Linked DNA regions of Homo sapiens. The protein of the gene in region 1 purifies or fractionates together with the protein of each later gene. This does not show direct contact. Each region holds a gene or a part of one and is shown in the gene's direction. Other genes may lie near its edges. The genes, in order: MECP2, KPNA3, TRIP12 and GTPBP4.

Region 1 (7,026 bases):
ATGAACTTGTGAACTAGCTATTTAGTTCTCCTCATAATCAAGATTGTGTGTGTGTGGGGGGTTCTGATTAGAGGGAGGATGAAGAGAGGTGTATGGGGTTTTTTTTGTTTTGTTTTCTGTTTGTTTGTTTGTTTTTGAGATGGAGTCTCACTCTGTCACCCAGGCTGGAGTGCAGTGGCACGATTTCGGTTCACTGCAACCTCTGCCTCCTGGGTTCAAGTGATTCTCCTGCCTCAGCCTCCTGAGTAACTGGGATTACAGGCATGCACCACCATGCCCAGCTAATTTTTGTATTTTTAATAGAGATGGGGTTTTCGCCATGTTGGCCAGGCTGGTCTCGAACTCCTGACCTCAGGTGATCCACCTGCCTCGGCCTCCCAAAGTGCTGGGATTATAGGCATGAGCCACCACACCTGGCAGGTTTCTTTGAAAAAGTTTGTGTTTCGGCAAACACCATAAACCCCCTGGGGGACAGCCTTGGGGAGTCACCTGGCACCCTAGCCCAGCCTCCCTCCCTTGGGTCCTGCAGTGAAGGCTTAGTGAGGGTGTGCAAATGCCCAGGTCACCCTGGGACTGGGCAGGCCCTCTGGGCTAAGGGTAAACTCATTTGGAATACCTGTTTTCTATCATTGTTTTTTATTTGTTAAATTTAAAGGGTACAAGTGCAGTTTTGTTGCGTGGATATATTGTATAGTAGTGAAGTCTGAGCTTTCAGTGTAACCATCACCTGAATAGTGGACATTGTACCCGTTAAGTAATGTCTCATCCCTCACCCCCTCCCACCCTTCCCAGTCTCTCCAGTGTCTGCCATTCCTCACTCTGTCCATGTGCACATGCTATTCAGCTCCTGCTTCTAAGTGAGAACGTACGGTATTTGACTTTCTGTGTCTGAGCTGTGTCACTGAAGACAATGGACTCCAGCTCCATCCACGTTTTTTATCATTTTTACCTGCACTCCACACCCAGCACAATCCAGGCTTCTTTGTGGGTTTTTTGAAATTTGTCTTTAATTATAAAAGTAGCAGCCAGCAAATTAACAAACACCCATGTGCCTTTCATTGCACAGAATTGAAAATCATCATACTATATTTGCTTCAAGTAATTTCCATTAGAAAGAACTAGAATATTACAGTAGAGTTAAAGACCCTTTATTTCCCATCTTCAGTGCTCTTAAAAGTTCATTTAGGGCCAGGCATGGTGGCTCACACCTATAATCCCAGCACTTTGAGAGGCCCAGGTGGGTGGATCACCTGAGGTCAGGAGTTCAAGACCAGCCTGGCCAACATGGCGAAACCCCATCTCTACTAAAAATACAAAAATTAGCTGGGCGTGGTGGTGCGCATCTGTAATCTCAGCTACTCGGGAGGCTGAGGCAGGAGAATCGCTTGAACTCAGGAGGGAGGCAGAGCCTGTATGCAGTAAGCCGAGATTGCGCCACCACACCCCAGCATGGGTGACAGAGCAAGACTCCGTCTCAAAAAAAAAAAAAAAAAAGTTCATTCATTGTACACTTAGAAATAGTTAAAAAGGTAAACTTTGTTTTGTGTGTGTGTGTATATATATATATATATATATATATATATATATATATATATATGTATTTTTTTTTGAGACATATATGTGTCTGGTTTGTTCGCCCAGGCAGGAGTGCAGTGGCATGATCAACGGCTCACTGCAGCCTCAACTTCCTAGGCTCAAGTGATCCTCCTGCCTCAGCCTCCCGAGTAGCTAGGATTACAGGCACACACCACCATGCCCAGCTAATTTTTTTTTTTTTTTTTTTTTTTTGTAGAGACAGGGTTTTGCTATGTTGCCCAGGCTGGTCTCAAACTCCTGAGCTCAAGCGATCCACCTGCCTCACCTCCCAAAGTGCTGGGATTACAAGTGTAAGCCACCACACCTGACCTGTTTTGTATATTTTACCACAATAAAAAGCCTTTAAAACCCCAAGCAGACAGTTCATTTTCATTCAGGCCCAACTCAGAATCTGATCACAGCGGGGTTTCCCCCCTTTCTAGCGAGTAGCTGAAGAACTGTTTTCTCTCCTTGATGGTATAACTGTCTCTGTGGGTGTTGCTCCCCTGCCGCTCCAGTGGTTTTGTTTTTGTTTTTGTTTTTTTGAGACGGAGTCTTGCGATCTCAGCTCACTGCGACCTCTGCCTCCTGGGTTCAGGCGATTCTTCTCCCTCAGCCTTCCATGTAGCTGGGACTTACAGGCACCTGCCACCACGCCCGGCTCATTTTTGTATTTTTAGTAGAGACGGAGTTTCACCATGTTGGCCAGGTTGGGCTCGAACTCCAGACCTCAGGTGATCCACCTGCCTCAGCCTCCCACAGTGCTGGGATTACAGGTGAGAGCCACTGCACCCAGCCGGCCCCTCAGTCTTTTCCTTCTCAATCAGTGGCACCACCATCTTCCCAGGCTTTGGACATGGTCCCTGACTCACCCTTGCCCCTCACCCCCACACTAATCCACCTGCGAGCTCTGTTGCTTCACCACCTAGACCAGCCCCAAATCCTCAACTGCCCCCACCCTGGGCCACACCTGGACCACTGCTAGAGGCCTCTCATGGGCCCTCCCTGTTTTTCTCTTGCACTCCCCGGGCTTTCTGGCACAAGATGCCCCAGAAGCAGAATCACATATCTCTCCTGGGAGCCAATCTAGTGTGTTTACTGCCCCTGGAGTGTTATTGTTGGCCTTAGAATATGTCCCACTACAGGTTTGCAGAGCACTGTAGTCAAAAGTCATTTGAAATAAATCTTTTCTCTGTGGTATATTGTCAATTTGATATAGAATTAAATTTGTTTCTTTTCTTTTTTCTTTTCTTTTTTTTTTTTTTTAAGAGACAGGGTCTTGGCCAGGCGTGGTGTCTCATGCCTGTAATCCCGGCACTTTGGGAAGCCAAGGTGGGTGGATCGCCTGAGGTCAGGAATTCAAGACCAACCTGGCCAGCATGGTGAAACCCCGTCTCTGCTAAAAATACAAAAATTAGCCGGGCGTGATGGCAGGTACCTGTAATCCCAGCTACTCGGGAAGCTGAGGCAGGAGAAGGCTTGAACTCAGGAGTCGGAGGTTGCAGTGAGCCAAGATCACGCCATGGCACTCTAGCAAGACTCTGTCTCAAAAAAAAAAAAAGAGAGAGAGAGAGACAGGGTCTTGCTCTGTCACTCAGGCTGGAGTGCAGTGATGTAGTCATGGCTCACTGCAGCCTCATACTCCTGACCTCAGGTGATCGACCCGCCTCGGCCTCCCAAAGTGCTGGGATCGTAGGCTGAAGCCACCATGCCTGGCCCGAACTCATTTGTTTTTATTTGCATTAAGTGTAATAAGGTTTTGTTACTTTTAGTTTGAATTTTATTTTGGGTAATATAAACATTTACATGATTCAGAAGTCAGAATTACACTGAGGCATGTTCAGCTAGGCCTCACTCCTGTGCCTGTACCCTTACCTTTTTCCCCCTACCCCATGCAGGGAATCAATTTCATTAGTTCCTGGTGTGTCCTTCCTTAATACCCCCCCTTCTTTCTTTGGTAGAATGCAGTAGATATGTTTGCGCTTTGCTCCCTTTGCTTCACAGTGGATCCTGGAAATGACTCCATCGCAGTTCTTAGAGCTCTTGTTTAGTCCCTTTGGATCTGCACAGTACTCCAGTGTGTGGGCGCACCATAAGTTTATTCAGCAAGTGCCCTGGTGATAGGGATCGGGGGTATTGGAAGCCTTTGGCTGGTAAAAATAATGTTGTAGCAAATAACATCATGCATATGTTCTTTGAGATTTCTGGAGGTGTCTCTTTAGCATAGATTTCTAGAAGGCATTCCTTACGTCACGTTTAGGTTTATAGTTTGACCTCATGGTGATTAAGGTATTTGGGAAATGCAAATGAGAGTTTCGAAGAAGCCAGATCTTTCCCATTAGTTCACTGTTTTTCTCTGACATTAGGACCGTCCGGGTTCTAGGGAGCAGCCCTGGCGTTAGGCAGTGCCATGATGGATTGTGTAGAAGTAGCGATTCCCATCTGTCTGCTTTCTTGGCCCACTCTGCTGGTGGCTCCCCTTCCCTCCCTCCTTTATGGGGAGCTGGGGAGCTGCCTAGGGGTCCATTCTCAAAGGCTGATCTCTGGTGGGCAACAGGCCACACCTAGCTTTCCAGGGTTCTTCGTCATTTCCCATTGAGAGCTGTAAGACTCAGAGACATGAAAAGGAAGCTCTGGCTGGGCACGGTGGCTCACGCCTGTAATCCCAGCACTTTGGGAGGCTGAGGCGGGTCGATCACCTGAGGTCAGGAGTTCGAGACCAGCCTGCCCAACATGGTGAAACCCCGTCTCCACTAAACATACAAAAATTAGCCTGGCGTGGTAGCACACGCCTGTGATCCCAGCTACTCCGGAGGCTGAGGCAGGAGAATAACTTGAACCCGGCAGGCGGAGGTTGCGATGAGCCGATATTATGCCATCGGCAACAGAGCGAGACTCCATCTCAAAAAAAAAACAAAAAACAAAACAAGGCGAGCTCTGTGCTGGGACAGATTAGGGACCCCTCTTTACAGCAAGAAAGACTGCTCTGTGGGTTGTAGGATGCCTTTGTGTATGCAGTGGCTCTAGGTGACTCTGGCAGCCACACTCTGGGCCCTAAACTTCTGGAGGAAGATACAGGATAGGGAGGAACTCAGGGGTGAGTCATGGTGGGGACAAGACATTCCCTCACTCTAAGACCTTGTCACTAGATTGGAACATCTCTTGCCTCCCTACACCTGACCTGATGGTTCTGGAGAGATACGTCCTTGCAGCTTCTGAGTCCCAGCACTAAGCAGCCTTTGGTAACTTCCCTACATCATTTGAGTTCTGGTTTCCTAAGGATGCTTGCCAGTGAGTGCCATGGTGCCCTCATTGCACAGTCTGTGCAGTGTAGACAAGAGGGGAAGTCTCTTGGGGTAGACCAGCCGCAAGGCGGTGACTAGCACTGATGTGAACCACATGGGACAGGGGAGTTGTGGGGCTGAGAACACGGAGGGTGGGAGTAGTCATGCTCTTTTCCAGAATGAACTGCTAACGAAGGGACTCGCAGGTGGCTGCTGCTTCTTTCCAAGCTGCCCCTGTTGTTGCAGAGGCTCTGGAGTCCTAGGAGGTTTCACGGTGGCATACTCGACAGAGTACTAGAGCATCATGGCCAGATAGTGATGCTGGGGTGTGGGGCCTCACGGTGGCCATTTCTGACGAGACCCCACCGGGCCAAAGTGATGTGTAGAGAAGGAGCTGCTTCGGTCACCAGAAAAGAACGGGGAAGCCTCCCACACTAGAATAGGTAGGGTGCTCTTCTCCACCGGCAGGAAGGGGATGTATGGCTCTGCCTGGACCACACCTTTTTCCTTGCTCTTCCCTCCGCATCTGCTGTGGCCGAGGCCATTCCTCATCAGGGAACATGTGTTAGAGGCTCACGCCACCTGGGACCACTTGTCTTATCACCCCCAGGACCCTAGGCGGTAGTTTCCTGTGGCCTGAGTTAGCTGATATTTATATAGTGCCATTGTGCCTTTTCTCCTGTGATGCTCACAGTAAGGATGCCTAGATGGGGTTACCTGTTGTCAAGATAAGGAAACTGAAGCACAGAATGCTGAGGTCATTTGCTGGGTTCATGTTTGGAAAGCGGCAAAGGATTTCAGTGCAGGTTGGCTGGCTCCAAACCTGTGTGTGCTTTCCATGACACTGTACTGTGTGCCTCATTGAGCCTCATTCTAGAAAACCAAAAACACACCCAAGGCCCGGCCTTCACAAAGGAGACCCCTCCCCCATTTGGCTCCCTTTCCAGCAGTCGACGGCCTCTTGTCAGCCATCGAGCCCAGAGTCCCTTGAAGTGCGACTCATGCTGGGGTGGTATGCTCAGGAGCCGCAGTGTTTCCGCTCAGAGGAAAGGGCTCTGATTCTCCTGCAGTGCTAGGAGACTTGTGGGTGGCCACAGTGCAGGTCAGGCACACCGGCCAGCACCACCCACAGCCCAAATTCCTAAAGAAATATTTGGGTCCCAGCTTGGCCCGAGTCTCTGTTGTCCTGGGGAAGGACATCAAGATCTGAGTGTATGATGGCCTGGGGCCTTGCATGTGGTGGGGGTCCAAGCCTGCCTCTGCTCACTTGTTCTGCAGACTGGCATGTTCTCTGTGATACTTACATACTTGTTTAACACTTCAGGGAAGAAAAGTCAGAAGACCAGGACCTCCAGGGCCTCAAGGACAAACCCCTCAAGTTTAAAAAGGTGAAGAAAGATAAGAAAGAAGAGAAAGAGGGCAAGCATGAGCCCGTGCAGCCATCAGCCCACCACTCTGCTGAGCCCGCAGAGGCAGGCAAAGCAGAGACATCAGAAGGGTCAGGCTCCGCCCCGGCTGTGCCGGAAGCTTCTGCCTCCCCCAAACAGCGGCGCTCCATCATCCGTGACCGGGGACCCATGTATGATGACCCCACCCTGCCTGAAGGCTGGACACGGAAGCTTAAGCAAAGGAAATCTGGCCGCTCTGCTGGGAAGTATGATGTGTATTTGATCAAGTAAGTAAGAGCAACTCCTATCTCTACAGGGCAGGGAGGGCAGGGACAAGGATCCCTCATGGAGCAGGAAAATGTATGTGCCCAGGGTGGGGTCGGGGGGAACATAAACAATGAACACTGAGACCAGGTGTGCTTGAAATGACCGTGTACAGAGGTCGCTGCCCTGAGTGGGAAGTTCTCAAGGTAGCAGGCCCTCTATCCTCTCCACACCTCAAGTCTTTATCTGGGGATGGAATAGCTGCGGAAGCAGAGGAACTTGCAGAGCTAGGGGTTCAGAGGGGTGAAGAAGCATGTTTCAGTTCTGCCTTTTAAATGATCCCAAAAAGGTTAGCAGTTTTCAAATGACATTTGCAGACAGCCTCATTTAATTCCATGAGAAGGGTGAGCAAAGGATTATCTTGTTGAAACTGATTCCTGGAGAGACTGAGCACCGTACCTGAGTTCAAACTTGGGAATGTTCTAGATGGTGACTCAGGCCCAGGCACCAACCAG
Region 2 (7,026 bases), on another chromosome or scaffold:
CTTCTTGCCTCAACCTCCCATTTTTTAATCTGATTCTAGACTTATCTATTTTGCCAAATTTGGAACATATTTCTTCATATTTTTTTCAGCTCCGCCTTTCCTTGTAGGGTCTCTGAAGACACAAATATTAGATCTATTGTTATTGTGCTGGAAGTTCCTGAGAGTTAATTTCTGTTTAATCTTTTTTTTTTTCTGTTATTCAGTTTGGATGATTTCTATTGATGTATCTTTGGGTTCATTTATTTTTTTTTCCCCCTTCTATCATGTCGGGTTTTTTTGCTGAGAATTCCCACTTTAAATTTGTTTCAAATGTGTTCATAATTGTTCACCAGTGCATTTTTATGATAGTTACTTTAAAATCTTATCAAGTCCTTGTCAGATAATTCCAATATGTGTGTCATCTCAATATTGGCATCTGTTGACTGTCTTTTCTCTTTTGAGAATTTCCTGGATCTTGGTATGAAGGGTTATTTTCCATTGTAGCCTACACATATTGGTGTTATGCTTTGAGACCCCTGTTTCTAGGTAAATCTAGTTACTGTTACTGCCAGGGTGGGCAGTAGCCAGACTTTGTTCTCAGACCCAGCATCTGCAGACACCTCCAGCAGGGAGGCCTCCTCACTTCCAGAGTGGGAAATGGGCTGGTAGGTGGGCTCAGCTCTTAGGCCCAGCTTCTGTCCTCTCTTTTACACAGTCTTGAGGCAAGAGGTCCAGACAAAAGCTAGAATTTAATTTTTTCTCCTCTTACAGATAATGGAAATTTTTAGTGTTCTCTGACTCTTAGTAATGCTGAAGGGGTGTGGGTTATATGTGTAGTTCTATTTTATTTATTCATCTATATCCTTTTTTGAAGGGTATGTGAATTCAGGTGCCTGCTATTATTTTAGGGCAAAAAGATGTGATGTCTTCAATTTGGATGACCTAATAGGAAACATCTTGATTTTGCATAAGCTACAACCAGTGCTTATATTCCTCTGTGACGACACCAAGCAATGCCACATACAAGATCTTTGACCTTGAATGAATCACCAGATCGCTAAGCCTGTTTTCTTCTATGTAGTTGCAAAGTTAGGATAGGCCTAGGGCATGGTTTATACTCCAGGTTTATACTTCAGTTGGGGACACATTTCAGGAGATTTTCAAACAGTTTTTTCCCCAGATGAAGTTAAAGTGCCAAGTCATTTCTTTTATTGGTTTACTTTAGTAGCCTGAAAAATTGTATTGCTAAATATGTTGGAAAACCAGTAGAGTAAATAGATGACCTTTCTGTTCTCTTCTGAACTTGAAACAGTATGGTGTGTTGGCCTCATTCTTGTAAATAGTGTTTTTCTGTGGGATTATTAGGTAGCTAATTTGTGAGGGCAGGGAGAATTACTTTTCTGCCTGTTTTTAAATTCATCTGTCTGATACATAAATGCAGAAGTTGGAATAGAAGTTTTCCCAGACTTCTGTGTCTCATTTTCTGTGAAGAATGATCTGAGGTAGGCACTGAAAGAAAGATAAGGTACTTTCTACTTAATAGATTAATCAGCTAAGCAGATATTTTTGCCACTAAGCTAAAACTTGAAATTTGGTTACTTTTTCTGTCACTACTCCTGAGGTGTGTTGAACAAGTAAAGCATTCAAACAAATATGTAAAATGGTTTTTCTTTTGTGTTTCCTGTAGATTCTTGTAGACACTGTTTGGGCTCTGTCATACTTGACAGATGGAGGTAATGAACAGATACAGATGGTTATTGATTCAGGAGTTGTGCCCTTTCTTGTGCCCCTTCTGAGCCATCAGGAAGTCAAAGTTCAAGTAAGTATTTTTAAATTTTTCTTATTTGTATACAGTTGTGTTTGCTATAACCAGTTAACTTGTACAGCTAGGCTTTAATTCTATCTGTAAGTGCTTATCTTCCACATTTCTTCTGCTAGTCCCTGAGCCTGATTTTGTTGATTTCCAAATCTTTATCTCACCCAGTTTCTTTGCTGAGTTCCACACTTGTATAGCCAATTGTTCTTGACCCTTTATACATATCATCTAAGAACTCCTTCAAGCTTTCCGTGGTTAACTAGACAGAAATGAAACGATCATCTCCCACAAACCTGCTCTTCTTCCTTGTCTACCTTCAGTGAACAGCATGGCCTAAGCTAGAAATTTTGATTCCTCCTTGCAATTCCCATTCCATTACAAAATCATTTCAATTCTTCTTATATAGGTTCAAATCTGTCTCTCCTTATCTATCTAGAACAACAGATTTAGTTCAAGACTCTATCTTTCCCCCAAATAATTGCAATAACCTAATTGCATTTCTTCTTTCTCTCTCCCACTCTAATTAGGGGTAGGCACTTATTAGATCTGTTCATCCTGCTTTACCAAAGTGACTTTCTAGGTGGAAGTGTGTGCCCATTCCAGGCGTTTATTAAAATATTATATATATTTTTGAGATGGAGTCTTGTTCTGTCGCCCAAGCTGGAGTATGGTGGCGCGATCTCTGCTCACCGCAGCCTCTGCCTCTCAGGTTCAAGTGATTCTCCTGCCTCAGCCTTCAGAGTAGCTGGGATTACAGGCATGCACCATCACACCAGCTAATTTTTGTATTTCTAGTAGAGATGGAGTTTCACTATGTTGCCCAGGCTGGTCTTAAACTCCTGACCTCAGGTGATCCCCCCCGCCTCGGCCTCCCAAAATGCTGGGATTATAGGCATGAGCCACCATGCCCAGCCTTAAGAAACTGGACTTCTTCTAAAATTTTAATTTCCTTTTATTTTTTGAATCTTTTTCCAACCAATTTTCACACAATTTTTTTTTTTCATAAAGTTTCAGTTTTTCACAAGAGACTATTTAAAATTCAGAATAGCTCTCAGACTGCTTGGTGCTTTGTGAAAGGATGAAATAAGTGTTATTTATGCCTTGCATTTTTACTTTTTCTCAGGATTATGAAAAATATAGAATTAGTCTTATAAGCAAATAAATTTATAGAAAACATTTTATCCCCACCCTAGACAGCAGCCCTCAGAGCAGTTGGCAACATAGTGACTGGCACCGACGAGCAGACCCAGGTTGTTCTCAATTGTGATGTCCTGTCACACTTCCCAAATCTCTTATCACACCCAAAAGAGAAGATAAATAAGGTAAGGCATATAATGTCCTCATTATGCTATTTCTTTCTGTGTCTCATTTTTAACTGTCTCCTTGTTTCTATTGCTACTTGTATGTTTTTCTTAAAAGCCACTGCAGCGAAGATGAGAATTATTTTAAATCACCTCTGCAAATGTTTTTCTTCAACTTTTTTTTTTTTTTTTTTGAGACAGAGTCTGTCTGTTGCCTAGGCTGGAGTGCAGTGGCACGATCTCGGCTCACTGCAACCTCTGCCTCCTGGGTTCAAGCGATTCTCCTGCCTCAGCCTCCCGAGAAGCTGGGACTACAGGTGCCCGCCACCACGCCCAGCTAATTTTTGTATTTTTAGTAGAGATGGGGTTTCACCATATTGGCCAGGCTGGTCTCGAACTCCTGACCTTGTGATCCGCCTGCTTCAGCCCCACAAAGTGCTGAGATTACAGGCGTGAGCCACCGCGCCCAGCCTTTTTCAACTTTTAATCGCTTCTGGTAGGTGCTGCCCTGGTCATCACAGAGTAAAAAACATTTTTAGACTACCTGTGTTTCTATTTAAGTAGACTGAGCATAGCAACAATCATTAAATTAGTAGCCGCTTGAAAGTGCAGACAAAATCTGCCATTTGAATGGGCTGGTATTTTTTTAAACAAACCGATCATAAAAATTTTGATCTCCCAGCAAAATTAGTTTGGACCCAAAGACGAGGTGCCTAAATTCAAGGATCATAAAAAATTACTCTTTTTAAGATTTCAAGCTTCATAGACAAGTTTATTATTAATTGTGTAATATGTACTTACTAGTATGTAATAAGTCTTCATGCCTGGCTTATTTCATCTAGCATGTTTTCAAGGTTCATTCATTTTGCAGCATGTGTCAGAACTTTATTCTTTCTATGGCTGAATAAATATTCCATTGTATGTATACACCACATTTTGTTTTTACATTCTTCTGTTGATGGACACTTCGGTTGTTTCCACCTTTTCACTATTACGAAGAATGCTGCAGTGAACATTGGCATACAAATACCTATTTGAGTTCCCGCTTTCAATTTCTTTGGATATATAACTGCAAGTAGAATTGCTCGATCATATGTTAATTCTGGGTTTAGCTTTTTGAGGAACCACCAAACCGTTTTCCATTGCAGCTGCACTGTTTTACATTCCCACCAGCAGTGTTACTAGAATTCTAATTTCTCCACATCCTAGCCAACGTTTATTTTCTGTTAAAAAAAATTACTGACAATCCTAGTAGATGTGAAGTGGTGTCTCATTGTGGTTTAAATTTACGTTTAGTTGGCCAGGCATGGTGGCTCATGCCTGTAATCCCAGCACTTTGGGAGGCCGAGGCGGGCAGATCACGAGGTCAGGAGATTGAGACCATCCTGGCTAACACAGTGAAACCCCGTCTCTACTAAAATTACAAAAAATTAGCCGGGTGTGGTAGCAGACGCCTGTAGTCCCAACTACTCAGGAGGCTGAGGCAGGAGAATGGCATGAACCCAGGAGGTGGAGTTTGCAGTGAGCCAAGTTTGTGCCACTGCACTCCAGCCTGGGCGACAGAGCAAGACTCTGTCTCAAAAAAAAAAAAAAAGGAAAAAAGAAAAAGAAATAAATTTACATTTAGTTTACTAAAGTTTTATCTGCCTAATATACTACCATCACCCAAACCCAGCAGAACTGATCATTTCTTCTTCGTCATCATAACTATATTTGTATAGTTGCTTGAGTATAATTTGACTGTTGGGTTCTTATAGAAAAGTATGGTGTCAAAAAACACATTTTATAGATACATTTGTTCCAGTGAAGACAAAGAAGCCAGAGACTTTCAGACTCTGGGCCAGTTACTTTTACTAAAGAAATTTTTAACAATATAGGTGATTTTTTTTTTTTTAGCTAAATGAATATATTCCATAATTGGAAACAACTGAGAAGTGAGGAAGCTGGGCAGAAGTCAGCAGAGAAAGGTTCCGGCCTGTGATGTAGTATGCTTTTAAGTGAGGGTATCGTGGGGGGTAGAGGAAAATTTCATAGAAATGCCATCTCAACTTCAGCAAGCAATTAGTTACTTCAAAAATTTTTTGCCTTGAAAATTTGTTACTTGCATTTTGAGACTATCATAGGACCCTGGAAGTAGAAGTTACCAACTTGATTTTCTTCCCTCAGCATTTCTGTTTGAAACTTTTTAAATCTACAAAAAATGTGCAAGAATAGTATAGTGAACACCCATGTACTCTAAACACAGATTCAGCAATTATTAACAACTTACCACAGTTGGATGGCAAAACAAATTCATTTGTGGAAGAGGAAGATACACATGTGATACTAACCTGTAAACAGCTCACAGACGTGTTTATGACTTATAAATCCCTTAGTTTTAGAATATTTATGTTATATAGACCCATGCTAGACTAGTTAGATGGTTAATTTTTATGGAATACTTGAATGACTATATCTTGTGAGTAAATATTTTTTAAAATTAAAAAAGAAATCACCTTTATTAGAAGTAGTTTTTAAGTAGTTTTAGAAATTCAGTTGTATAGTGGCTGGGCGCGGTGGCTCATGCCTGTAATCTCAGCACTTTGGGAGGCCTAGGCGGGTGGATCACGAGGTCAGGAGATCGAGACCATCCTGGCTAACACGGTGAAACCCCGTCTCTACTAAAAATAGAAGAAAATTAGCTGGGCGTGGTGACAGGTGCCTGTAGTCCCAGCTACTCGGGAGACTGAGGCAGGAGAATGGCGTGAACCCGGGAGGCGGAGCTTGCAGTGAGCCGAGATCACGCCACTGCACTCCAACCTGGGCGACAGAGCAAGACTCCGTCTCAAAAAAAAAAAGAAAAGAAAAAAGAAATTCAGTTGTATATTTATTTCTGTCTTTTAGAGGAAGCTAATGCACAGACATGTAAGCTCCATGAATAAAGATTTCTGTTTTGTTCATTTCTATAAAATCACCATTTCCTAGAATAATGCCTAGCTTATAGTAGGCCTATATATTAATGAATGGATAAATGCCAGGTTATTGGAGCCCAAATATAATTAATGGAAATTTCCTTATAACTTGTTTAAAATGGAAGATTTTGTATACCTAATCACTTTTTAGGTGCAGTCTCTTTAACGTAATTCAGGTGATTTTGTTATTGTCTATATAAAATATATTAGAAAGACATTAAAGGTATTATTTTTCAAATAAAGGTGCCCTATATTTTGTTCAATTATAGGAAGCAGTGTGGTTCCTTTCCAACATAACAGCAGGCAACCAGCAACAAGTTCAAGCTGTAATAGATGCTGGATTAATTCCTATGATAATTCATCAGCTTGCTAAGGTTGGTCATATTATGAGTTCACCGTGTCTGTTAATCTGTTAATAACCAAGACTTTTTGGATAAAGAGTCCATTTTATGATCTCATTTTTAACCTTCAGGGGGACTTTGGAACACAAAAAGAAGCTGCTTGGGCAATCAGCAACTTAACAATAAGTGGCAGAAAAGATCAGGTGAGTTTGAAAACCTGTAACTGTCATGATTGTTAATACTGGAAAGCATGCTGCTCTCTTATGTTTCGTAGTTGCTGACTGTATTGTGTTCTTTTTGGGGAAAAGATAATTATTATTATTTTAAGAGATGGAGTCTCACTATGTTGCCCAGGCTAGAGTGCAGTTGCTATTCACAGGCATGACCATAACGCACTACAGCCTCCAACTCCTGGGCTCAAGATAGCCTCCTGCCTCAGCCTTCCATGTAGCACGACACCCTACTGGGAAATAGATAATTATATAAATAAAAATATTTCTTCTCTTTTGTTGTCTAGGTTGAGTACCTTGTACAGCAGAATGTAATACCACCGTTCTGTAATTTACTGTCAGTGAAAGATTCTCAAGTGGTTCAGGTGGTTCTAGATGGTCTAAAAAACATTCTGATAATGGCCGGTG
Region 3 (7,026 bases), on another chromosome or scaffold:
GCTGGTCTTGAACTCCTGACCTCATGACACATCCGCCTCTGTCTCCCAAAGTGCTGGGATTACAGGCATGAGCCACCGTGCCCTGCTGGGCATTGCTGAATTTAAGCCAGTTTTGTGAGCCTTGGTTTTCTAAATGATTTGAATACTGTTTACTTTTTGTGGTATAATATAGAGAGTTTACATGCTAAGTTCTTAAGTTCATTGAAGGTATTAGTAAGGGCATGAGAAATAACACAGGAGTAGAATTAGGTGGATCTAACATAAGCTATATAAAAGTCAACAGAACAATTTATTTGAGTTAAAAAGAGGAGGGCTGCTGCCCCAGACCTCACCTTTAGTTTCATATGGGCCGGTTTCTGATGACAAATGGAATGAATCATAATTTTTAATTGTTTTGGGCATTTATTTTTCACAAAGTTGTCTAGCTTTGAATGTATGTAGTTTTCTTTCAGAATGAGTTGTTTAATTATCAAGGAATGCAACAAGCTATATTTTAAATTTTAAAATGAAATAAAGTAGAAAACGTGATTTAATTAAAACATCAGTCTGCAACGATCTTTAAGAAAATAAGAATGTAGAGGACCTGAATGACATAATTTATATTTCCTGTAGCTGTTAAATTCCACACCCCAAAAACAGAACGTTACACCTCTTTTTTAGAATAACTATGGAATGATTTGAAAAATAGTCTCATTTCTGAAGAAAAAAGAGTTGAACTCTGAGATCTGTTAGTAGAAATATAACAAAAACAAAAGCAACTCTTAGAAATTAAATCTCTAATAAACTCATTGGTTAAAGCAAAATTTTAGTCTGCAATGGGAGAATATCTAGGAAAAATTAAAATTAAATCACAATATATACAAGGCAGGAAAATCACATGATCCTGGGAGGCGGAGGTTGCAGTGAGCCGAGATAGTGTCGCTGCACTCCAGCCTGGGCGATAGAGCAAAACCCTGTCTGAAACACCAAAAAATAAAAAATAACAACAACAACAACAAAAACACAATGTATAAAAAATCTTACAAAGTTCAGCTTAGCTACAACTTTAGAAAATATGCTTCTTGAAGTATATGTGTCCTTTCATTACTAAAAGTGAAGACTAATAACACTTGAAAGGCTCACCTAGAGTTTTGTTTTTTTGTTATTTTTTTTTAAGAAATTCATCTATTCTAATAAGTCTTTAGAACATATTATTACTTTCAGATTAGAACCTTAAAAACAAAAATGATATGAGGGATCCAGGAACTATTTCCTTTCTTAAGAAGCTAATTTCTTACCTTCTTTTAAGACTCTTTTCATGAATTCTGGAAAGATGGAAGAAGAAGTGATACAGAAAAGAGAAACCTTAGGTCCTCTTTTGGAACAGATGGTTGTACTTGTATGATATCTTAAGAAATTTATGGCATCCTTACAGATTGAGTTAGAATTATTTTGTGAGATTTTCAGTGACTCATTTCTAAGTTCTTTTGAGATGGTGTTTGGAATAAAAGCCTTAAACTTTTTTTTAACAAGTAAATTTGGTATTAATGAAACTTTTTTCTAGATTTTCATTGGTATATGCTCTTATGTGGAAAGTGGATATCAGCTATGAATTACATAAATTGCATTTGTTACATTAATATCTCACCCGAATGGCAGCAGTTTTCTGGATATCAACATGTGTTTGTTTTTTATTGCTTATGTAAATCTCATGTAACCATTCCCCAAGGTCTAAAAAATAATCTAACTGAAAACAGTTTTTTCATGTTCCTCAAACTTGCTTTTAGAATAGTGCTGGCATAAGGATTTGATTTATTGTAAATATGATGCACCATATCAATCATGGAATTATTTGAATGTTTTTTGGAACTTTTGTGGTAAATTCCATATTTCTCCAGGACTTTTTTGTGTTCTTTCTGTTGACAAGTACTTTAAAGTTTTAGCAAGTATCACTATGTTGATTTCATGTAGGTTTATTTATTGTTTAGTGCTTGAAATGATTTTCTGTGTAAAATCAGTTTGAGAATTGGTTCGTCTGTCTCTGCATTTGCTGTGTTTACCTGAATTTTAAGTACAAATTGGAAATCGGTATCAGTGTGGGAATCATCAATTGTCTTTTCCGTAAACTTTTAAAGCCATTACAGTCACATTATGTATTAAAAGTGTGTTTAGATCTAAAGTCTAAATTTGCTTTTTGTTAAAATGTAGCATATTTGAATATCTGCACTAAAATTGCTGAAAAATGTGTTACTGCTTAAGCAACCTTAACAACGCTGTGCAATTATGACTACTGGTGATAATAAACTCTTCGGTATTGCGGGGCGGGGGTGGTTCTGAGAGGCAATTTCTTTTTGCCAGATTATTTAGTAGAATAATAATTAAAATTTATAAATATTTGGAAAAAGGGTAGGGTCAACAATGAATTGTGGGAAGCTTTAAGAAATATATAAAAATATTTCATTTTCAGTATTGTATTTGCATCTCAGTTTCCTGATAGATTTCTGTTTTGATTTTCTGCTGACAGGTCACATTTAGGGCAGGCAAAACATAAGGGATATAGCCCTCCTGAGAGTAGAAAATCTAATTCTAAGGCACCCAAAGTGCAGTCTAATACTACTTCTGAACTGTCAAGGGGACACCTTTCTAAAAGGTAAATCTTCATGTTGCTTATACATTTTCAAGGCAGAATTATTTGCATTCAAATCATTGCATAATGTTAAAACTTGAGGTTATTCCAAAACGTTTTGATACATATTTTCATTATTCTCTAAGTAACTTTTAGGATTGACAGTTTATCACCTTTGCAGTGATTAGTGCAGTATACCCTAGACAGTGAGTTTGTCAATGATAAAATGATATTTTTGTTTGGAGAGCCGTAAGATTCCCCCTTTGCTTAACAAACCATTATGGCCATTTTTTATTTCTTTTTATTTTTTAATCTTTTTTTTAGTTTTTATTGTCAGAGCCATAGTTTAGGTTTAAGTCAGTGATTCTTAAGATTTAATTGTTAAGAGACTTTGGAAAGCAATGTTAACTTTGAAGATTTGATAGTACTACAATATAAAAATCTCTAACCTTCATTTTGAAAGTGCGTATGTTAATGCTTATTTCTTCTAAGCTTTGACAAAGCAGTTGTGCTTGTGAATAGGGCATCAATATTCTGGCTTCCTCTGGTTCCGAACAATTAAGTGTTGTTTTTCTTGTAATCTTAATTCTTGTTTTGTGATTACGAGTGTTAGTGTCAGTAATCTTTGGGCTAAAGAACACCCTTATCTTTTAATCAGATATTTTAGTATCCAAAGTCACATCTGCTTTTGTTTTGTTCTTTTATTTCGTTTTACAGATTTGAACCTTCTGAAAACCTATGTTTAATACTGGACTTAGTAGGAACATATTCATACTTTATTTTTTGAAAGCATTATATATGACAGTTGTAATTATGACAGGCTGATATTAACTGTTTTCTTATCTAACCTCTTAGAAGCTGCAGTTCATCATCTGCTGTGATAGTTCCACAACCAGAGGATCCAGACAGAGCCAATACTTCAGAAAGACAAAAAACGGGGCAGGTGCCTAAGAAAGACAATTCTCGAGGAGTGAAGCGCAGTGCTAGTCCAGACTACAACAGGACCAATTCTCCTAGCTCTGCAAAAAAACCAAAAGCACTTCAGCATACTGAATCTCCCTCAGAAACAAATAAGCCACATAGTAAGTCAAAGAAGAGACATTTAGACCAGGAGCAACAACTGAAATCTGCACAATCACCATCAACAAGCAAGGCTCATACCAGGAAGAGTGGGGCCACTGGCGGTTCACGGAGTCAGAAAAGAAAAAGGACAGAGAGTTCTTGTGTAAAGAGTGGCTCCGGGTCTGAATCAACTGGTGCAGAAGAGAGATCTGCGAAACCTACCAAGCTGGCTTCAAAATCAGCCACCTCAGCCAAAGCTGGGTGTAGCACCATCACTGATTCTTCTTCTGCTGCCTCTACTTCCTCCTCGTCTTCTGCTGTAGCCTCGGCCTCCTCCACTGTACCACCAGGTGCCAGAGTGAAACAAGGAAAAGATCAGAACAAGGCCAGGCGTTCCCGTTCAGCGTCCAGTCCCAGCCCCAGAAGAAGTAGCAGGGAAAAGGAACAGAGTAAAACTGGTGGCTCTTCAAAATTTGATTGGGCTGCTCGTTTCAGCCCTAAAGTTAGCCTTCCTAAAACAAAACTGTCTCTTCCAGGGTCTTCTAAGTCAGAGACATCAAAACCTGGACCTTCTGGATTACAGGCCAAATTAGCAAGTAAGTTTACAAAAAGGTATTTTTCTTTAATTAAAGAAAGTTTCTCTTGGTTTGTCAAAAGCAATTATGCTTTAAAGTTAAGGGTTTTTTCCCCCCAGTCTTAGATAATCTTAGATGTATTACTGTCTGTGTAATTAAGTACATAACAGCATGTAGTAAGTGCTACTACATTTAGTTTTGTTGAGACAGGTAAGGAATACTACCTTCCTATTATTACGAAACCATCACATTTTAGTGTCTGTGTCTTTATTGGTCCTCGCGGCATCTCCTACTTCACTGATTTCCTAATATCAGGATGGGACATAAAGTTGGATTTTCTTCTATACCACATACAAAATTATCATTTAGTTAGGAGTTCTTTTTAGTTATGAGTTGCCATGATCAGAGATCAAATATATATATGTTTTTTTAGATGGAGTCTCACTCTGTCGCCTAGGCTGGAGTGCAGTGGCGCAGTCTCGGCTCACTGCAACCTCCGCCTCCTGGGCTTAAGCAATCCTCTTGCCTTGGCCTCCAGAGTAACTGGGATTACAAGTGTGCACACCATGCCTGGGTAATTTTTGTGTTTTTAGTAGAGATGGGGTTTCACTGTGTTGGCCACGTTGGTCTCAAACTTCTGACCTCAAGTGATCTGCTCACCTCGGCCTCCCAAAGTGTGGGGATTACAGGTGTGAGCTACCATGCCTGGCCAAATATATTTTTTTATATGAGATATTCTTGATGTGTAGATACAGTGAATTAAGTTATTACTATAAATATACCTCAATGTAAATTAAACTTTTTCATATGTAATATCTCACAGTCTTTTAAGGAGTTTTGTCTAAAGATGAATACTACTTATGTTTCACTACTCTTATATACACTACTCTGTGTCCTAAGTGAGTAAGAATATTGCTCTCTAAAAGTTTACAGTGGAGTAGAAAGAATTTGTGTTTTGAGAATACATTCAAGCAAAGAAACAGAAAGTAGATGGAAGAAACATAGCGTTATGTGCATTCCTTCATGAGTCAGTTTTGGAGATATCCAGGAACTCTTCTCCCTCTCTCTTTACCAAAAGACTTCTTCAGGGAACCAGCTGCTCATCTGGGGAATGCTAGTGTCTTTCTTTTCTTTCCTCCCTTCTTTTTTTTTTTTGAGACAGAGTCTCACTCTGTTGCCCAGGATGGAGTAGTGGTGTGAGTGGTACGATCTTGGCTCACTGCAACCTCCACCTCCTGGGTTCAAGCAATTCTCCTGTCTCAGCCTCTCCTGAGTAGCTGAGATTACAAGTGTGCGCCATCACACCCAGCTAATTTTTGTATTTTTAGTAGAGAGGGAGTTTCACCATGTTGGTCAGGCTGGTCTTGAACTGGGACAAGTGATCCACCTGTCCCAGCCTCCCAAAGTGTTGGGATTATAAGTGTGAGCCACTGTGCCCAGGCTTCTTTCCTTATTTCTATTTCAGAAACCTATAAAGGACAAATAGGATAATAAAGCACTTATCTCTACAATTTTTAAAAGCATTTTAATTTTATAATACCTAATTAGGAAGCTTGCTTTTAAGCATCTTTTCTTCTCTGATGGATTTTAGATCTACATTTGGGTAGGGCTATAATGTTTTCTTGGTTTAAAAAGATTGTATATAGTGTCTACTAGCATTCTTGTCAAAGTATAGCTCATATTGAATCAGCCTAACTTAAAATTGAATCAGAACTATTAGCTCTGTTTAATTTAACACTGCAGTCTAAAACTACTTTTGGTTGATTCACATATTACCTGAAATGACAATACTATTAATAGTAGGTACTATATAAAAAATTTTATGTTTAACCTGTATGATAGGTTATTGTGAAGTAACATATTTTACTTTTAGATTGAACTTTGTTCTGTTTTGGTATTTTAAATATGCAGAACATCTGTATAAAATGTTTTAAGTTTAAAGGATTAAGATAGGCTAGATCAGTATCTTGAAGTGAGAAGGAAAAAAAGGTCCAAGTTAAAAGGACAACCAACTATTTGTCCTTCCAATGCTTTATTGATAATTGGAGTTACATATGTCAGCTTTTATGCTGCCTTTCCTCCCTGTGTTTTGTGTCTGTCAGTCCTGCTATGTAATATTCACAGCCAGTGAGCCAGGTTGAGTTTACAGCAAGCTGCTTAGGATTCACTTCCCCTTCTGCCTTCCAGTCTGCCTCACTTGAAGAACTCATCTCTTATGTGTAGGAGGGTTCTAGGGCCAGGCAATAGCAGATTGTACTTGAGTGTCATGGCCTTGGTCCTTTGTAGAGATCAGCTTTCTTTTCTTTATATAGTCTGTTAACTTGATTTTTAAAAGAAAACCCAACTCTACCAGTGGCTAATCAGTGGGATTTTCTCCTTGGTGTTTCAATCAGGAAACACCAAGAGTTTTGGCAGTGTCATTTTGCTGCTGGTTTGATAAAACCAATCCAGATAATTCCATTAAGCCTGCTCAGCACATAGTCACAAACTAATTTAGTATTTTAAAACTCATTTCACCATTATTTCATTCACTTGCACAGTATCTGTGTTCTGTTGTCACTATTAAATCACTTTTCCGTTTTCACTGCCACTATCCCAGTTCTGATCTCTCATCGTAGCCTAAGCTGTTGAAACAAGAGAATGGAACCAGCGTTTGTGTAGCATAAAATAAGTACCAGGTATTTTACATATGCAGTTACATATTCTTTTAAAAAAAATGGTGCTTTAGGATACACTTTTTTTTTTTTTTTTCTGAGACAGAGTCTTGCTGTATTACCCAGGCTG
Region 4 (7,026 bases), on another chromosome or scaffold:
ATTTGTGAGTTTTATTTTGTCTACAGGTTGCTGTGACATGGTGACCAGCAAAGCTCTGCAGGGTCCTTGCTGATTTTTCAAATGCTTGTCAGCTCTGAACCTGCCCTGAGCTCTGAGCCAGTGCTCTGTGGCCGATTTGGTGGCCACTGCACTGGGTGGCTTTTTAAATTGCAGTTTAATTCAGCAAAATGAAAATTTCAACTCCTCAGTCACATGAGCCACATACTGAAAGTTCATTAGCAGTGCATGACTGGTGGCCCGGTTTGGACAGTGCAGACAGAACATGCCTGTCATCATAAAGAGCTCTGCGGGCATTGCAGGCGGTGGGGCAGGACTTGGGAGGGTGAGGGGAGGTGGTGGCTGTCCTCCAAATGCCAGCCCTCACGCTGTCCTAGTACCCCAGTCCTTGGCCTGGTGGTGCAAAGGGAGAGGTACCAGGCTCCTATTCGATGCAGTTTTATCGTGTGAGGTTTCTTCTATGGTTATTTCCTACCCAAAATCAGTCTTGTTAAAACACACAGATCCCACGTGTACACAGAGGAAATGAGGTGATTCTGAAAGTTCTCACTTGTTCCAGGTGACGAGAGCAGACGTGGATGTCCAGCCCTATGCGTTCACAACCAAGTCTCTGTTTGTTGGGCACATGGATTATAAGTATCTACGTTGGCAGGTGAGAGTCTTGTCTTTATTTTTATTCATTTATTTATTTTGAGTTGGAGTTTCACTCTTGTTGCCCAGGCTGGAGTGCAGTGGCATGATCTCAGTCCACTGCAACCTTCACCTCCCAGGTTCAAGTGATTCTCCTGCCTCAGCCTTTCGAGTAGCAGGGATTACAGGTGCACACCACCACGACCGGCCAATTTTTGTGTTTTTTTAGTAGAGAGGGGGTTTCACCATGTTGGCCAGGCTGGTCTTGAACTCCTGACTTCAGGTGATCTGCCCGCCTTGGCCTCCCAAAGTGCTAGGATTACAGGTGTGAGTCACACTGCACCTGGCAAGAGTCTTGTCTTTAAACAGAACAAATATCTTGGTTTATCAAGAACTTGAAATTTCTCCATCATCATAAAGAAAACTCATCTGAGCTCTTGGGATGCATAAGAACAGGTCGCATGTCTCTGATATAATTCAGGGGAGGCAGCCAGCTGCCAGTGTGGATTTCTGCATTTTCTTAACATAAAATGAAATTATCTTTGTGTCATTTCTAACTCTGTTATCAGAAATGGCATATATACAGTTTAAAAGCGTGAAGCAGGCTGGGCACAGTGATTCACGCCTGTAATCCCAACACTTTGGGAGGCCAAGGCAGGCAGCTAACCTGAGGTCAGAAGTTCGAGATTGGCCTGGCCAACATGGCGAAACCCCATCTCTACTAAAAATACAAAAATTAGCTGGACGTGGTGGTGGGTGCCTGTAATCCCAGCTACTTGGAAGGCTGAGGCTGGAGAATCGCTTGAACCCAGAAGACAGGGGTTGCAGTGAGCCGAGATTGTGCCATTGCACTCCAGCCTGGGCGACAGGAGCGAAACTCTGTCTCAAAAAAAATAAATAAATACAAAGCAAGAAGCAATGTTTCCACACTCTAATTTTGTAAATTGTGAAGAAAGTAATTCCTAAGACATGGGAGGGTTCTCAGTTATCCCAGTTTTTGTGTTTTATGATGTCGCTGGTAAAAAGAGGAGTCATTTCTCTCAACATCATGGCTAGCATTTCTTTGAGCTCTACAGGGTTCCTCCTCCCTTTTTTGATGTTTAAATAGTATGTACTTTTCTGTCACTGGTTTATTTTGTGGTATTCAGTTTGGGAGACCTACTTTTTTTTTTTTTTTTTTTTTTTTGAGATGGAGTCTCTGTCACCCAGGCTGGAGTGCAGTGTCGCTATCTTGGCTCACTGCAAGCTCCGCCTCCCTGGTTCACGCCATTCTCCTACCTCAGCCTCCCGAGTAGCTGGGACTACAGGTGCCCGCCACCACGCCCAGCTAATTTTTTGTACTTTTAGTAGAGATGGGGTTTTGCCGTGTGAGCCAGGATGGTCTCGATCTCCTGACCTCGTGATCCACCCGCCTCGGCCTCCCAGAGTGCTGGGATTACAGGTGTGAGCCACCGCACCCAGCCCTACTTTTTTTTTTTTTTAACTACAATTCTGCTGTAAGATTATTAGGTCTGGTTGGGTGTGTGTGAGTGACTTCTGGGATGTGCTGGACAAGAAGCTTGTGGGTGAGTGTGCTTTCAGTGACAAGGTCTGGCTGTGTTAGGTTGTAGACACTCCTGGGATCCTGGACCACCCTCTGGAGGATAGGAACACCATCGAGATGCAGGCCATCACTGCCCTGGCCCACCTCCGTGCTGCGGTCCTGTATGTGATGGATTTGTCTGAGCAGTGTGGGCATGGGCTGAGGGAGCAGCTAGAACTCTTCCAGAACATCAGACCTCTCTTCATCAACAAGGTGTGTGTGGTCACTCATGTTTTGCTTCATATCCTGCAGTACGAGAATAATGATTTCATTATTTTTCTTCCTTGCCTAGCCTCTCATAGTTGTAGCCAACAAATGTGATGTGAAGAGAATAGCTGAACTTTCTGAAGATGATCAGGTAAATCACGTTAATATTTTGAATATTTCTTACTTACCAATTCTGAATTCTCATCTCAGACAACCAAAGTTTAGATGAAGGAATTTTAGCAATACTAGTCCACAATTGTATTTTATAGTTGAGATAATATCCTCAGTGGTTTAGTGAAAAGACATAATAAAAACTTAGTTATTGGCAAACTAAAACGAAAACATAAGTTTCTGGATTCTTTGTTCTTGAGTGTGTGGAAGCATCTGTATTTGATGGGTTGGACTTTTGGAAAATGTGATTACTTAGGAGAGAACTGTTGGAGAAGGGTGCTCACAGGTGTTACTTCATAAAACAGGTTCTGTGATTAAATGAGTTTGGAGACTAATGATTGAGTGAAGGAGAAGGAGGATCTTGGAATTTGGGCTTTCTGGATCTGGATCTATGAGTGAGACGTGCCTGCTAGCTTTCTCCAAGAGGCAGGCAGTATTGTTGGACATAATTTTTCAAACTGATTGAATCCTACAACCTTTTTAATAGGCATCCTTCATGATAAATGCTTTTAGAAGCGTGCACTGGTGGAGTGGCTTTCAAATTGTGGTCCTGGCCCAGCAATGTCAGCATCACCTTCTTAATTTCTTCCTTAATTTCCTCATTGATCCATTGGTCATTCTGGGACATGTTTATAATTCTCATGGGTGGTTTTTTTTTTTTTTTTTACAGTTTTGAAAGTATCTCTTGGTATTGATTTCTAGTTTTATTCCACTGTGGTCTGAAAAGATACTTGGCAATTTTTAAAAATTGATGAGATTTGTTTTGTGGCCTAACATATGGTCTATCCTGGAGAATGTTTCATGGACTGAGGAGAGGAATGTGTTTTATGCAGCGGTTGGATGACATGTTCTGTAGATGTTTGGTCTACAGTGCACTTTTTTTTTTATTTTATTTTTGTTTTTTTTTTGAGATGGAGTCTCGCTCTGTCACTGAGGCTGGAGTGCAGTGGCACGGTCTCGGCTCAGTGCAGCCTCCACCTCTGAGGTTCAAGTGATTCTCCTGCCTCAGCCTCCTGAGTAGCTGGGATTACAGGCGTGCGCCACCACACCGAGCTAATTTTTTGTATTTTTAGTAGAGAGGGTTTTACCATACCGGCCAGGCTGGTCTTGAATTTATGACCTCAAGTGATCCGCCCACCTTGGCCTCCCAGAGTGTTGGGATTATAGGCGTGAGCCACTGCGCCTGGCCTACAGTGCACTTTAAATCCAGTATTTGTTGATTCTTTTTTGCCTAGGATCTGTCTAATGTTGCGAGTCTGATGTTGATGTCCCCAAATATTATTGACCCCTTTTATTATTATATAATGACCTTCTTGTCTCTTTTTATTGTTTTTGACTTAAAATCTGCTTTATCTGATAGAAGTATAGCTATTCCTACTTGCTTTTAGTTTCCATCTGCGTAGAATATCTTTTTGCATCTCTTCATTTTCAGTCTATGTGTGTCTTAATGTCTTTACAGGTTAAGTGAATTTCTTGGATACTTTTTCATGTTTTCATGATAGTGATTATTGTCTTCGCTTCCAGATGTAGGACTTTCTTAAGTATATCTTGTAAGGCTGGTCTAGTAGTGACGAATTCTCTGTTTTTGCTTTTCTCGGAAAGAATTTATTTCTCCCTTATTTCTGAAGGATAGCTTTGCTGGATGTAATATAGTTGGCTGGCAGTCTTCTTTTTTTTCTTCAACACTTTGAATATATATCATCCCATTGTCTCCTGGCGTGCAAGGTTTCTGCAAAGAAATCTGCTGTTAGTCTAATGGGGATTTTCTTATATGTGACTTCAAGCTTTTCTCTAGCTGTTTTTAGAATTTCCTTTATATTTGACTTTTGACAGTTTGACTATAATGTGCCTTGGGGAAGACCTTTCTGGGCTGACTCTATTTGGGAATTCTTGAACTTCCTGGTTTTAGATGTCTATACCTCTCCCCAGTCTTGGAAAGTTTTCAGCTATCTCATTAAATAGGTTACTAAGCCTTTTCCCTTCTCTTCTCCTTCTTGAACTCCCATAATGCCAGCATGTATTCACTTAATGTTGTCCCATAAATCTTATAGGCTTCCTTCATTCTTTTTCGTTCTTCCTGCTTTTTTTCTCTCTGACTAGGTAGTTTCAAATGACAGAGATTTTTTTTCTGCTTCATCCAGTGTGCTGTTAAAACTGTCTATTGTATTATCTCATCCATTGAATTCTTCAGCTACAGGATTTCTGTTTGACTCTTTTTTACAATTTCTGTCTCAGTTTAAGTTCTTGTTCATATCATGAAATTGTTTTCTTGATTTTGTTGAATTATCTATCTGTATTTTGTTTCTCATTGAGTTTCCTTCAAAAAAATTATTATTTTGAATTCTCTTTCTGGCAATTCATTGATTTCCTTTTCATTAGAGTCTGTTCCTAGAGAGTTAATATTCCTTTCATGATTTCTTATTTCCTTGCTTTTTCATGTTTCTTGTGTCCCTGCATTGATGTCTCTGCATCTGGTAGAACAGGAGCCTCTTTTATACTTTCTTCTAGAGTGGCTTTCATGGAGAGGTTTTCACCTCACTTGGGTTTTACTGTGCCATTTGGGAAGAGAACCGTGACTTTCTGGATAGGAGCAGTGACATTGTTTCTGTGCAGCTTCCTCACCTCCATGAAATGTTGGCAATAACTGGGTGGCTCAGTGGCCTCAGCTCTGGAAGTTTGTGCCAGCGGTGGTGTATGTTTTTAAGGTCCTTGGTGTCAGGGGCTTTTGGGGTCCTGCTATTCTTGTTTTTCCCGCAATGGGGGACTTATCTGAGGGGATCTTTCTTGGTGTCAGGTCTGACATGGTCTGCAAGCAGCTGCCACAGTGCTGGGTTTCAGCTACAGGTACTCAGGGTAGCTGTGGGACTGGGGTCCTAGCCTTAGGGTCTTGTGTGCCTATCATGGCCTGGCCTTGGGGTGCAGGTTTACTCTCTGTGGTGGATCTCTGATCCTGAAGCACCCCTAGCAGCTTAAGCCCACAGGGCAAGGCTGTGGCTGTGGCTCCACCCGTGGGGTCAGGGCACAGTCCTGGCCTGACTCCAGGGAAGACGCACTCTGGAGGTTTGAGCCTGGGAAGCAGGGTAGAGCTGTACTTCAGAAACCTGAGCCAGTAGGGAGGGCTTAGTGTCAGCTCAAGGGGAACTCTGGACCCTGGGATGGTGGGGCCCAGCAGTATCCCAGACTCTCTGATGCTAGGTGAGGTGGCAGCAAGGACCCCAGAATGGACTAGTCCAGCTGTCATTTGGGCCCTAGAGGACAGGGAGGAGGACAGCAGTGACTCCATTTCCTGGAAAGAGTGGTGACTCTGCAGCTCAGAATATAGGGTTAGTCCAGCTCCAGGGAGCAGGTGCTGGAGCTGTTTGCGTGGTGGGGCAGGTGCCTCGGCTCAGCCCCTGCCCTGTTTCCCTGGGGTGTGGAGTACAATGTCAGCTCCTCCCCATGGTATGTGGCTGGTCAGCCTGGGCCTGAGGGTTGTGACTCTTCTGGGCGCCCCAGGCACCGTTGCCCTGGGATACAAGGTACCTCTTCAGCATAGACGCTGGGATATGTGACCATTCTGGGCATTTCCCAGGAAGCAGGGCACTGCTTCAGCTCAGGCAGCAGGGAGACAACGTTCCCTGAGAGGCCACGGTGCTATTTACCAGGAGGCAGGGTACCGTTGGGTGCTAGAGCAAGGGCTAGTAGAGGGGCTCCACCTCCACCAAGCCCTGCTGGGAAGGGGTAGCAGCTGCTCACAGCTGGCTTGGGGATGTTGGGCCACCAGGTTTGGGTAGTTTGGAGGCAGTTTAGCCTCAGGGATGAAGGGGAGCTGTGGCCACTTCCCCTGAGCAAGACATACTCCAGCCGCAGTTCCAGTCCCAAGATGATGGAGTATAGCCGCCCCATGGGCCCAACAGACAGGGCCCAGTGTCAGCTCCTTCTGTGTGGGAGCACAGCTGTGAGGATGCCAGGGGGCTCCGGTGGTGAGGGCTGTGGGTGTCCAGAGTGGTGGCAGGGCTGCTGCCATCCTCTTGCTTACCCCCTCACCGTAGGGAGAACCTCCTCCTGGGTCCCGTTGCATCCCAGCTGTAGGGTGGGTTGCTGGCGGCCCAGTGTGTTTTTTTTGGTTTGTTTGTTTGTTTGTTTGTTTTAAGACGGAGTCTCGCTCTGTCCCCCAGGCTGGAGTGCAGTGGCGTGATCTCTGCTCAATGCAAGCTCCACCTCCCAGGTTCACACCATTCTCCTGCCTCAGCCTCCCGAGTAGCTGGGACTACAGGCGGCCGCCACCACGCCTGGCTAATTTTTTATATTTTTAGCAGAGACAGGGTTTCACCATGTTAGCCAGGGTGACCTTGACCTCCTGACCTCATGATCCACCCGCCTCGGCCTCCCAAAGGCTGGGATTACAGGCATGAGCCACCGCGCCTGGCCCCTGGTGT

What was found.
Region 2: the proteins of MECP2 (region 1) and KPNA3 purify together in Homo sapiens (affinity purification with mass spectrometry; 4 studies listed by BioGRID and IntAct, with this or other methods). This does not show direct contact.
Region 3: the proteins of MECP2 (region 1) and TRIP12 purify together in Homo sapiens (affinity purification with mass spectrometry; 3 studies listed by BioGRID and IntAct, with this or other methods). This does not show direct contact.
Region 4: the proteins of MECP2 (region 1) and GTPBP4 purify together in Homo sapiens (affinity purification with mass spectrometry; 4 studies listed by BioGRID and IntAct, with this or other methods). This does not show direct contact.

The regions. Positions count from the first base shown.
Region 1 is NC_000023.11:154,031,715-154,038,740, reverse strand, and holds part of MECP2 (methyl-CpG-binding protein 2), read left to right. Parts: intron 1-1,879; exon of another isoform or gene 1,880-4,817; intron 4,818-6,183; coding exon 6,184-6,534; intron 6,535-7,026. UniProt on the Homo sapiens protein: Chromosomal protein that binds to methylated DNA. It can bind specifically to a single methyl-CpG pair. It is not influenced by sequences flanking the methyl-CpGs.
Region 2 is NC_000013.11:49,705,663-49,712,688, reverse strand, and holds part of KPNA3 (importin subunit alpha-4), read left to right. Parts: intron 1-1,666; coding exon 1,667-1,798; intron 1,799-2,988; coding exon 2,989-3,117; intron 3,118-6,316; coding exon 6,317-6,421; intron 6,422-6,519; coding exon 6,520-6,591; intron 6,592-6,905; coding exon 6,906-7,026. UniProt on the Homo sapiens protein: Functions in nuclear protein import as an adapter protein for nuclear receptor KPNB1. Binds specifically and directly to substrates containing either a simple or bipartite NLS motif.
Region 3 is NC_000002.12:229,856,009-229,863,034, reverse strand, and holds part of TRIP12 (E3 ubiquitin-protein ligase TRIP12), read left to right. Parts: intron 1-2,503; coding exon 2,504-2,629; intron 2,630-3,460; coding exon 3,461-4,263; intron 4,264-7,026. UniProt on the Homo sapiens protein: E3 ubiquitin-protein ligase involved in ubiquitin fusion degradation (UFD) pathway and regulation of DNA repair.
Region 4 is NC_000010.11:998,426-1,005,451, forward strand, and holds part of GTPBP4 (GTP-binding protein 4), read left to right. Parts: intron 1-577; coding exon 578-670; intron 671-2,251; coding exon 2,252-2,443; intron 2,444-2,522; coding exon 2,523-2,588; intron 2,589-7,026. UniProt on the Homo sapiens protein: Involved in the biogenesis of the 60S ribosomal subunit. Acts as a TP53 repressor, preventing TP53 stabilization and cell cycle arrest.